Homo sapiens: one gene and its partner. The protein of the gene in region 2 purifies or fractionates together with the protein of the main gene of each other region. This does not show direct contact. Each region holds a gene or a part of one and is shown on either strand. Other genes may lie near its edges.

The links.
Region 1: the proteins of TMEM182 (region 2) and OCLN purify together in Homo sapiens (affinity purification with mass spectrometry; one large-scale study listed by BioGRID and IntAct). This does not show direct contact.

What each region holds. Positions count from the first base shown.
Region 1 is NC_000005.10:69,502,790-69,507,072, reverse strand, and holds part of OCLN (occludin), read right to left. Parts: intron 2,897-4,283; 5' UTR 2,829-2,896; coding exon 2,779-2,828; intron 1-2,778. UniProt on the Homo sapiens protein: May play a role in the formation and regulation of the tight junction (TJ) paracellular permeability barrier.
Region 2 is NC_000002.12:102,759,834-102,765,564, reverse strand, and holds the start of TMEM182 (transmembrane protein 182 isoform a precursor), read right to left. Parts: upstream 3,535-5,731; 5' UTR 3,348-3,534; coding exon 3,216-3,347; intron 2,979-3,215; coding exon 2,879-2,978; intron 1,237-2,878; coding exon 1,138-1,236; intron 1-1,137. UniProt on the Homo sapiens protein: Negatively regulates myogenesis and skeletal muscle regeneration via its association with ITGB1. Modulates ITGB1 activation by decreasing ITGB1-LAMB1 interaction and inhibiting ITGB1-mediated intracellular signaling during myogenesis.

The DNA of each region.
Region 1 (4,283 bases), on a different chromosome or scaffold from region 2:
TGATCATACGTCAGGACAGTGGTCTCCAGAGAAAAGGAGAGGACACAGGGAAGGACTTTGAAGTGTTCTGTTTCTTGACCTGGGTGATGAGTATGTATGTTTGCTTGGTCTTTCCTCATGATCTCCTACATATGTTCTGTGTCCTTTTCTTTATGTATGTTGCAGTTCACCATTATTTACAAAAGCAACACAAAATAAGTGTCAGATTAGTGGTGCATTACTCAATTACTATATTCTCTAGTATGTTTTAAAAACTGTATTGTCATAAACAACTTGTGTCCCCACCATGTTTTAGGCACTAGTAAGGAGGTTAAAGAACTGGAACACAACCTTCACGTGATATTGTAAAATATGTATTTAGTCTTCATCTCCATTTTCTGGCATACAACTCCTAAAATCTTTGGACTCTCCAAAGTGATAAGTATCCCTTATATGCTAATGAGATGATAGGTTCCTGGCAGCCCTAGGAAGCTTCAGGATGGGAGCTAGGATTAGAGGGTTGGAACTTTTCAGCCCCAACCCTCTCTGGACAGGAAAGAGGGGCTGAAGCTTAAACTGCTCACCAATGGCCAATGATTTAGTCAATCATGCCTATGTCATAAAGCTTCCATAAAAACCCAAAAGGACCGAATTCACAGAACTTCTGGACAGCTGAACATGTGCAAGTTCCTGGAGGGTGGCACAACCAGGGAGGGCTGCTTCCCACATACCTCGCCCTGTCCACCTCTTCATCTGGTGTTTGTTGGCATCCATTGTAATATCATTTGTTTGTTCATTCATTCATTCATTCTTAAAAGACAGGGTTTCCCTATGTTGCCCAGGCTGGCCTCAAACTCCTGGGCTCAAGCAATCCTCCTGCCTCAGCCTTCTGAGTAGCTGGGATAACAGGCATGCACCACCACACCTGGCTTTTGTAATACCCTTTATAATAAACCAGTAATGGTAAGTACTGTTTCCCTGAGTTCTGCAAGCCACTTTAGCAAATTAATTGCACCCAAGGAGACAACTGTGGGAATCCTGATTTACTGTAGGTGGGTCAGAAACACAGGCCACAACCTGAGCTTGTGGCTGCTACGTGAAGTGGGGGCAGTCTTGTGGGAATGAGCCCTGAACCTGTGATCTGATGCTATCTCTGACAGTGTCAGAATTGAACTGATAATTAGAGGACACACAGCTATTGTCCACTGTAGAACTGATTACTTGGTTGCTGGTGGGGAAATATCCCCACAAATTCTGGTGATCAGAGGTCACAGATGTGTTGTGACAGAACAGCAGGAGAAACTGTTTGTTTTTGCCTATATCACACTCCACTACACTTATCATGGTTAAAGCTGCAAACTACTTAGAGGAGGAAATCCCTATCAATGTTTGATAGCAAATTTGGAATTCAAAAATTCACTGATAAGTCTTCACATGACCAAGGAGCCCAAAACCCCTCAACACTGCTTGTTTTAGATCATGGCAGGAATCACTCTTAAAACTGACAGTATGGAAAGTATTATGCTAAGTGAAAGAAGCCAGTTACAAAAGGCCACATATTACGTGATTTCTCCATTTATACAAAATATGCAGAATAGACAAATCTATAGAGACAGAAAGTAGACCAATAGTTGCTTAGGGCTGATGGAACTGGGAGGTGACTGCCAATGGATAGGTTTCTTTGGAGAGTAATGAAATGTTCTAAAATTAATTGTGGTGATGGTTCTACAACTCTGTGAATATACTAAAAACCATTAAACTATCCATTCTAAATGGGTAAATTGTAAAGTATGTTAATTATATCTCAATAAAGCTGTTATTTTTATTTATTTATTTATTTTTTGAGACGGAGTTTTGCTCTTGTCACCCAGTCTAGAGTGCAATGGCGCCATCTCAGCTCACCTCAACCTCCGCCTCCTGGGTTCAAGCGATTCTCCTGTCTCAGCCTCCCAAATAGCTGCAATTATAGGCATGCATCACCATGCCCGGCTAATTTTGTATTTTCAGTAGAGATGGGGGTTTCTCCACGTTGGTCAGGATGGTCTTAAACTCCCGACCTCAGGTGATCCACCCGCCTCGGCCTCCCAAAGTGCTGGGATTACAGGCATGAGCCACCAGGCCTGGCCTTTTTTCTTTTTTTCAGACGGAGTCTCGCTCTGTCTCTAGGCTGGAGTGCAGTGGCGTGATCTCGGCTCACTGCAACCTCCACCTCCTGGGTTCAAGTGAATCTCCTGCCTCAGCCTCCCAAGTAGCTGGGATTACAGGCAAGTAGCTGGGATTAGAGGTGCGCGCCACCACAGCCAGCTAATTTTTGTATTTTTAGTAGAGACGGGAGTTCACCATGTTGGCCAGGATGGTCTCGATCTCTTGACCTTGTGATCCGCCAGCCTCGGCCTCCCAAGGTGCTGGGATTACAGGCGTGAGCCACCGCACCCGGCCTAAAGCTGTTATTTTTAAAAACTGACAATATGTTCCCAATGGCCACCTAAATGAGGCATTTAAATGGAAGCTTCATTATCATTTGTACAAAACAAAAAGGAACATACAAATATAAACCTTGGCAATCTCTTGAAACAAACATTAGGAATAGGTGACAGCAGTTGTCCTAGCAGAGACAAACTGTCATTCTGAAAGTTGAGAGAAATTCAGTTTTCAGTGCAGACCCTTTGATACAATTTAAATTTACAAGTACACATATCGTTTTATTTTTAAAAGCAAACACTTAAAGTTTCAACCATACTTATTGTTTACATGTGATAGACTTTTTAAAAGAGAATAACTAAAGAATTATTTACTTACAATTCATCAGGCCTGTAAGGAGGTGGACTTTCAAGAGGCCTGGATGACATGGCTGATTGTCAATGGTCAGCTGATCTTCAGGATGAGCAATGCCCTTTAGCTTCCAAGATAAACCAATCTAAGCAACAAAAGTAGAGTTATGGCATTACTACTAAGCTCACAGTTTCTTTCTTTTCTTCATCCCACCCCCACCCCGAGACAGGGTCTCACCCTGTCACCCAGGCTGGAGTGCAGTGGTCCAATCACAGCTCACTGCAGCCTTGATCTACCAGGCTCAAGTACTCCTCCTACCTCAGCCTCCCAAGTAGCTAGGACTACAGACCTGCACCACCATGCCTGGCTAATTCCTGTATTTTTTGTACAAAAATTTGAAATATATATAATTTCATATTACTTTTGAAAGTTCATATTAAATGAGAATGTATAAGAAAGTGCACATATAGCCGCACTAGCACATACTAGCTCCTCAATGCAAAGTAACCATCTAATGGGTTAAATGCCTTTATCATTAAAAATGATAATAAAATGCATCTATAAATGGTGGAATTGTAGATATTTTTCCCTTATCTCCTTTTCCAAGTCTTCGAAACTGAGCACAATTTTTATACAAGGGGAGAAAAAACAATATGCATGGTATTAATTGGTCATTTTCTGAAATTTTGTCCTAAAATTCTTCAGCACAAGTTCCTAAACATCTGAGGAGAAATTTCACTCAACAAGCATTTATTAAGTGCCTACACTAGACCAGGAGAGCCTGTGGGAGTGACGTATGACAGCCAGCGCTGGGGTCCTGGCTCTTCCAGGCTGGTGTGGTGCTGATAACACAGGTGGCTAGCTTATGGAACAGTGAAGTGGGAGCATGGTGGAATGGTGTCATCTTTTAAAATAAGGTTACAGTAAGAATATAGTGGATGGAGGATGAGTAAGAAAAGGGAGGGCTTTGAAAGTCTAGTGGGAGTGTCTCACTTCCTTCAGGTAGGAAACAGGGAGCCAGTTCGTGATTCTCGGCAAGGGAGGTGTAAGTTTGATTTGAACCAGATTTGAAAGACAAAGTCAACAGTAAAAAGGAGCACCTACAGTCAGCAGCAGCAAACCTAGGTGTGAGGCAACAATGAAGGACTAGCTTAGGAGACAGAAGATAGGAAGGAAACTAACATTCATCAGACACCTACCGACGTGCTGGGTGCTTTACATAAAACCTCCTTTCATCCTCAAAACGACCCTCCATGGTTGATTAGTCACTTTACAGATGCAAAGAGGGTCAGAAAGAGATGTGAAGTAATATGCTCAAGGTTATATGGATGTCAGTGAGTCACTCAGATGTAACTTGAACCCAGATGATTTCATGTGCTTTTCACTATGCTAGTTTGAAACAATGAGTTCCATTTGGGAAACACCAGTTTTTGTGGGGAGTGCACATCTGGTGTTAGCATCCATGAGGAAGTGAAGATGGAGGTCATCTGCCTACGTCCGTAGGTGGATCCATGGGCACTGAGAGCTCTCCA
Region 2 (5,731 bases):
TGTTATATATCCACTAGGTTGGATTATGGTGCCAAGTTGTTGGGTCAAATACCAGCTTAATATTGCTGTGAAGGTATTTTTAGATGCAATTAGCTTTTATAATCCCTTGACTTTGAGTAGAGCAGATTACCCCCTACCCCATACTATGAGCGGGCCTCATCCAATCAGTTGAAGATTTAAAGAGAAAAAACAGGTGTCCTGAGGAAAAAGAAAGTCAGCTTCCAGATTGCAGAAGAAAAATTCTACTGGAGTGTCCAGCCTTCAGACTGGAGATTGCAACATCAGCTCTGACCTGAATCTCCAGCCTGCCAATTGCCCTGTAGATTTCAGACTCACCAGGCCTTACAATCACTCTCTCTCACTCTCTATGTGTGTATGTGTATGTGCACATGCATATGTATATACATGTATGTGTGTATATAATATATATTTATGTGTTCTATTGTTTCTCTTTTTTCTGGAGAACCCTGACTAATATTAATTTATTGAGAACATTAAATATAATAGCTACTATTTTTGAAAAACACTTTTTTGTTCTATATATGACATTGATAGTCTGTATCAACCCTTAGCAAGTTATTACAAATTTCATGTTCTTAATGTGATTTTAAGTTAATGATATCTGTCTGTCTGTCTCCTATGGGATATTACACACACAGAGTTCAGTCATTTTGTATAAATATAGTAGCATAATTACATATTTATATCATATATATTTATTGTATACATATTATATATTTATCTGTGATATTCTCATGTGTAATGATGACATAAAGTTTTAGAAGTATGATGTATATTACAATATTCTCAACTGTAGGACTCGTTTTAGGTCTGTTAAAACCTTAAGAAGCGGTTCTTCTTAATAAATATTACTATCTTCATATGGGAAAACACATTTAAAAATACTTTTATAGGCAGCTAGTAAATTACAATGACTTTACTTTTAGATCAAAGTTATGTTCTTTAAAATTATAAATGGCACATTAAAAATAACATTTTTTAATCTAACAGATATCAAAAATATTGAAATTACAGGTCTTAAATTATTTTTTTAATTGCTCACAACAATTTTGATCTGGGCATCCTTCAGAAAGATAAGACCCTTTTAGAAGTAGGCTGAGGACAGAGGGTACTTACTAACTGCAGAGTCATAGGAGGTCGAGTTGTGCTCGCCTCTCATGAAGGGGTACGGAGACAGGTAAGCATGTGTGCAGTTCTTGGACGGTGGCTGATTGGCTAGGAAGAACAGCAAAACAATGGCACTTGTTATTGAAAAGCTCAGTCATGACTCATCCTTAATGGAACAGAAATACAGAGCACAAGGGTTACACAAGCAAAACAAAACTACTGGTTCCATCAGCAAATTCAGCGAATTGTTGTGAGGAGGAAGGCCTTCTAGGAAACTCATATCAAGATGCACATGAGACGAAGGTGGATTCATCCAGAACATCTAGCTACATGACATAATTCAATGGAATAAATGCAAATGCCCTTTATATCACCTTACGATTTAAGGTACCACATTTCATCTTTTTTCACATACTCTCCAGTACCCAACAGTGTCTAGCACACAGTAGGGAATAAAAAATAATTGTTTTAAAAATCTAATAAACTTAAGTTTAACCTTGATTAGTTCAAATTAATAAAAAAATTCTTCTATATCCATTTTATTTTAGGGAAGAATGCAAATGATAAGTTATACAATAATTCAAATAAATTTTTAATATTTGAAAACATCACAAGAAGGCACTTTTATGTTGTCTGAGAACTTAAAATTTTTATATGTACACTTTAAGGTGGACTGAAATATTGAAATATTCTTTCTTTCTCCAAGTCTTTGGCAAAATCTTCCTCTTGCACAGTCTGACTTACTTCCCTTTACTAAAGTCTAAACCATTTCCACTGGCAAGTTGTATGCTTATTCTCCTGCCCCCAAATCCACTGTAAGATAGTCTATCAGGTACTTGCCTCAAAACGCTGCTTCATCACTACTTTGTTCCTTATATATGCCAACTTATCACCAGCTTGCTTAAGTCTTCAGGGACCTCCTATTTTTATTAAATATTCCATAATCCTGACTATTATGTAAATACCATACTTTGATTTTTGATAAGAAGACTAATAATTTCAATTCTCAATAAGCTTTAGGCTAATAAACAGCCCTTTCATTGTTGAATACAATGAAATAAGCGCTAGCTATTTTCAATAAATTGATTTTCAAAGATTAATTCAATATAAAGAATAGAGTTGAACAAATGCATTATAGTTTTTAAAAGTTATGCTACCTTAAAAAAGAACTTTAAAGTTTCAATGAGAACACAAACATCAAAAGCAAGGCACTTCTTGATAGTGCCAACAAACTTGGTTAAAGCTCAAATAATATAAGCTTTCATCTGCCATGGCTGGTAATTAAGTTCCATGATTTTTTTAAAAAAAATATACTGTTAACTTTGAAGTTATGAATATAAAATAATACATCTCTATTTATGGATTTTTACATTTGAGATTTCAAGGGCTGATAGCAAAAAAATCTTATTTATTTGCAACATAGTATTCACACACTTGAAAAAATGCTATAGACAATACCTGTCCTGTTTGTTAGAGTTAGTGTATTCTAAACAGGAGCAGTGAAACAATGGATAATTCAGTTTTGCCATAAATATTCAGACTCCTGTTTTATGCTAAAAGATAAAATAATTATTCCTATAGCCATGTCTACTTACTGAAAAGGAATCTCTACATGATGAACCTTTTAAAGACATCTAATTGAGATTTTGTAACTCACAATCCAGTCCGCTAGAAGTGACATATACTATGTAAGAAACTGTTCATTTTTATTTTACAGACAAGAGGGAAAATAAAGCTAAATTGTACTTACTGTACCAGAACTTCCAAATATTGGAGTCATTCTCTTCCACAATCCCATTAAACCAACACCTCCAGAAGAACCCTTCATGGTGAAAAGTGACGTTCTCTATCTGCACAGAACAAAATGAAGTAACTTGCCATCAATACAAGAAATATAATCAAAATCATTACAGCCAGTAAATTTTTAAGGACATGTATTTTATCCCAAATAATGAAGCTCAGTAGCTTTCTACATATCTCTTCCATGAAGAAATAGACACTCCACTACTATTCTCTGATTTCAAGAGCATACATAAGGGTATCTTCATAACTACCATGTGCATCACTATTTTGAAGAAGAGACTCACATTCTTTTCACCTGAACATCTCCCCACTTCAGTTGCAAGAAGCCAATAATCCGATCCAAAAGCCACCAAAAAGAGTAACACCCCCAAAGCACCAAAGAGAGCTCCAAAGAAGATAGCGATATTTAGTCTCATTTTCAATTCACTGGTTTCCTTTTAAATAAAATATGAAATTTTAAAATGGTAAGACACCTAGTTTCTCAGAAACAACAGCAAAAAAAAAAAAAAAAGAATAATATTTTTGAGTTGGCAGAATCTTCTTGAGAAGGCTGTCCTAGCTCATGTTTTGGTGGCTTCTCGCTCACGCCCCACCGGCAGATTCATATTCCCTTTGCTCGCCCCTGGAGGAACTCCAGCCCAGCAGCTGAGAATTGCTGGCTATTTTAAGATAGTGATTGAGGAGCTGTCTTTCTCCCATGGGGATCAAAAAATAGCTGACCTTCTCTTGACTATAGAGAGAAGTATCAGGAACTGGCTCAGATTATCATTATTGCTGTTGGGTAATCCACAGAAGTAGAAAGAAGATGGAATGGTTATGAAGTCATTGAAAGCATTGGCCCCAAATCTTGTGTCTGAACAAGCTCCTCTTAGTCTAGAATGCCCATTACAATCCCAAAGACACTTAAGACTCTCTTTGAAGATATATAAATCACAGATATAAAGAACCACAAAGACCGATCTTGAACACAATTGAAGTTGTAATTAACTTAATTCCTTTTGGACTTTTTTTGTGGTAGAAAATACGTTTTTGGTCAAATAGTCTAACATAACACAGTACAGTTCACGTTTATAATCTAAACATTCAGAGGTATACTTAAAAGGTCAAGAATGTTCATGGTAACATAATTGTTGAAAGTATAAAGAAGAGCTTTTATGCAGCATACACTAGTGACATAAAAACAACACTTTCTGCAGCAGCCTCATGAGTCTTATACAAGTTATTCCAAATAATCATCCCCAAAGTGGACTGATGAAAAAAGTCTCAAAAATGTATTATTTCCTGAATTAAGATGAAATAACCTGATCGACTTCTTTTTCCTTCATTTTAAAATATCTCACTTCCTCAAAATATGAATCATACTTAATACTCACACAGACCACCTAATAGCAATGAATCTACACTTTCTTCAAGGCTTAACTCTTTACAGCTTATTTGTTTGTTTTGTTTTTCTGTCTGATATGCCAGAGGAGAGTATTTTTCTAAGTATTTGTGTGCATTTAAAATCTTGCACCGTTCCTTTGGTTATTGTTTTTATATTCTCAACAATAATCTGGAATACTTAATCTTCCAAGGGGGCATCTCAACTCTACCAGCTTTCTTCACGCCTTCTTTTTTGTGGCATGGGATAGATCCTTACAATGGATTCTGTGAGAACAAAAAGATTCTCAATAAAGATGAAGGGCCCTGTTAGGATGTAGCTATATGCAATCAGAGGTATTCAAAAGCTATGAATAAGGCCAGGCGCGGTGGCTCACACCTGTAATCCCAGCACTTTGGGAGGCCGAGGCGGGTGGAGACCAGGAGCCTAGCCAACATGGTGAAACCCCATGTCTACTAAAAATACAAAAAATTAGCTGGGCATGGTGGCGGGCCCCTGTAATCCCAGCTACTCAGGAGGCTGAGACAGAAGAAACGCTTGAACCCGGGAGGTTGAGGTTGCAGTGAGCCGAGATCGTGCCATTGCACTCCAGCCTGGGCAACAAGAGCAAAACTCTCAAAAAAAACAAAAAACAAACAAACAAAAAAAAACATGAATAGAATTCTAAGCCATATAGAATGTTACACAATCATTAAGGATTAGATTTAAGTTAAGGGGTCATCTGAGCTAATCCCTCATCTAATGCTTAAATATTTTTTATAAGACTTCCCACACCATCAAGCTATGACATTTCCAGCCTGTGGCATTTAAGGACATCAGTAACAGCCATAATAGCTCTGCCTGATTTTCTGCCAAAAGCTGCATCCTAGGAGTTTCCAGATATTTATTCTATTCTGTCCTTTGAGATTGTGAAGCACAAGTTTCAATCCTCTGTCTGTGACAGAACCTTCTGATATTTTAAAGATAGCCATCACCCACGCCTCATCAATCACACTCCTTCCCTACCCCTATATAGAGGTCTAAGCTATATTTTTCTAAGCCAAACACTCTCTTCCTTTAAACGCCTTGAGATTGGTATAACTCCAGACCTCCTCCTCTCCGTTCTGGTTTTTTCCTACAATTTTCAAGTGCTTGATTGAAGTGAGACATAGTAAAATATTCTGGGTATATTCTAGCCGTTCTTACCTGGATGCTGGCTAAGAGTAATAATGGCCTCACAACAATGTTCATGCCCTAATCCTAATCTATGAATATGTTATTTTACATGGCAATATCCTGGATTACACAAGTGGTCCCAATCTTATTACAGGAAACCTTACATGAAAACCCGGGAACCTGTCCTAGCGGAGTGGCCAGAGAGAGAAAGGTGACCACAGCAAAAGGGTCAGACAGTTGCTGGTTTCAAGACAGAGGAAGGGG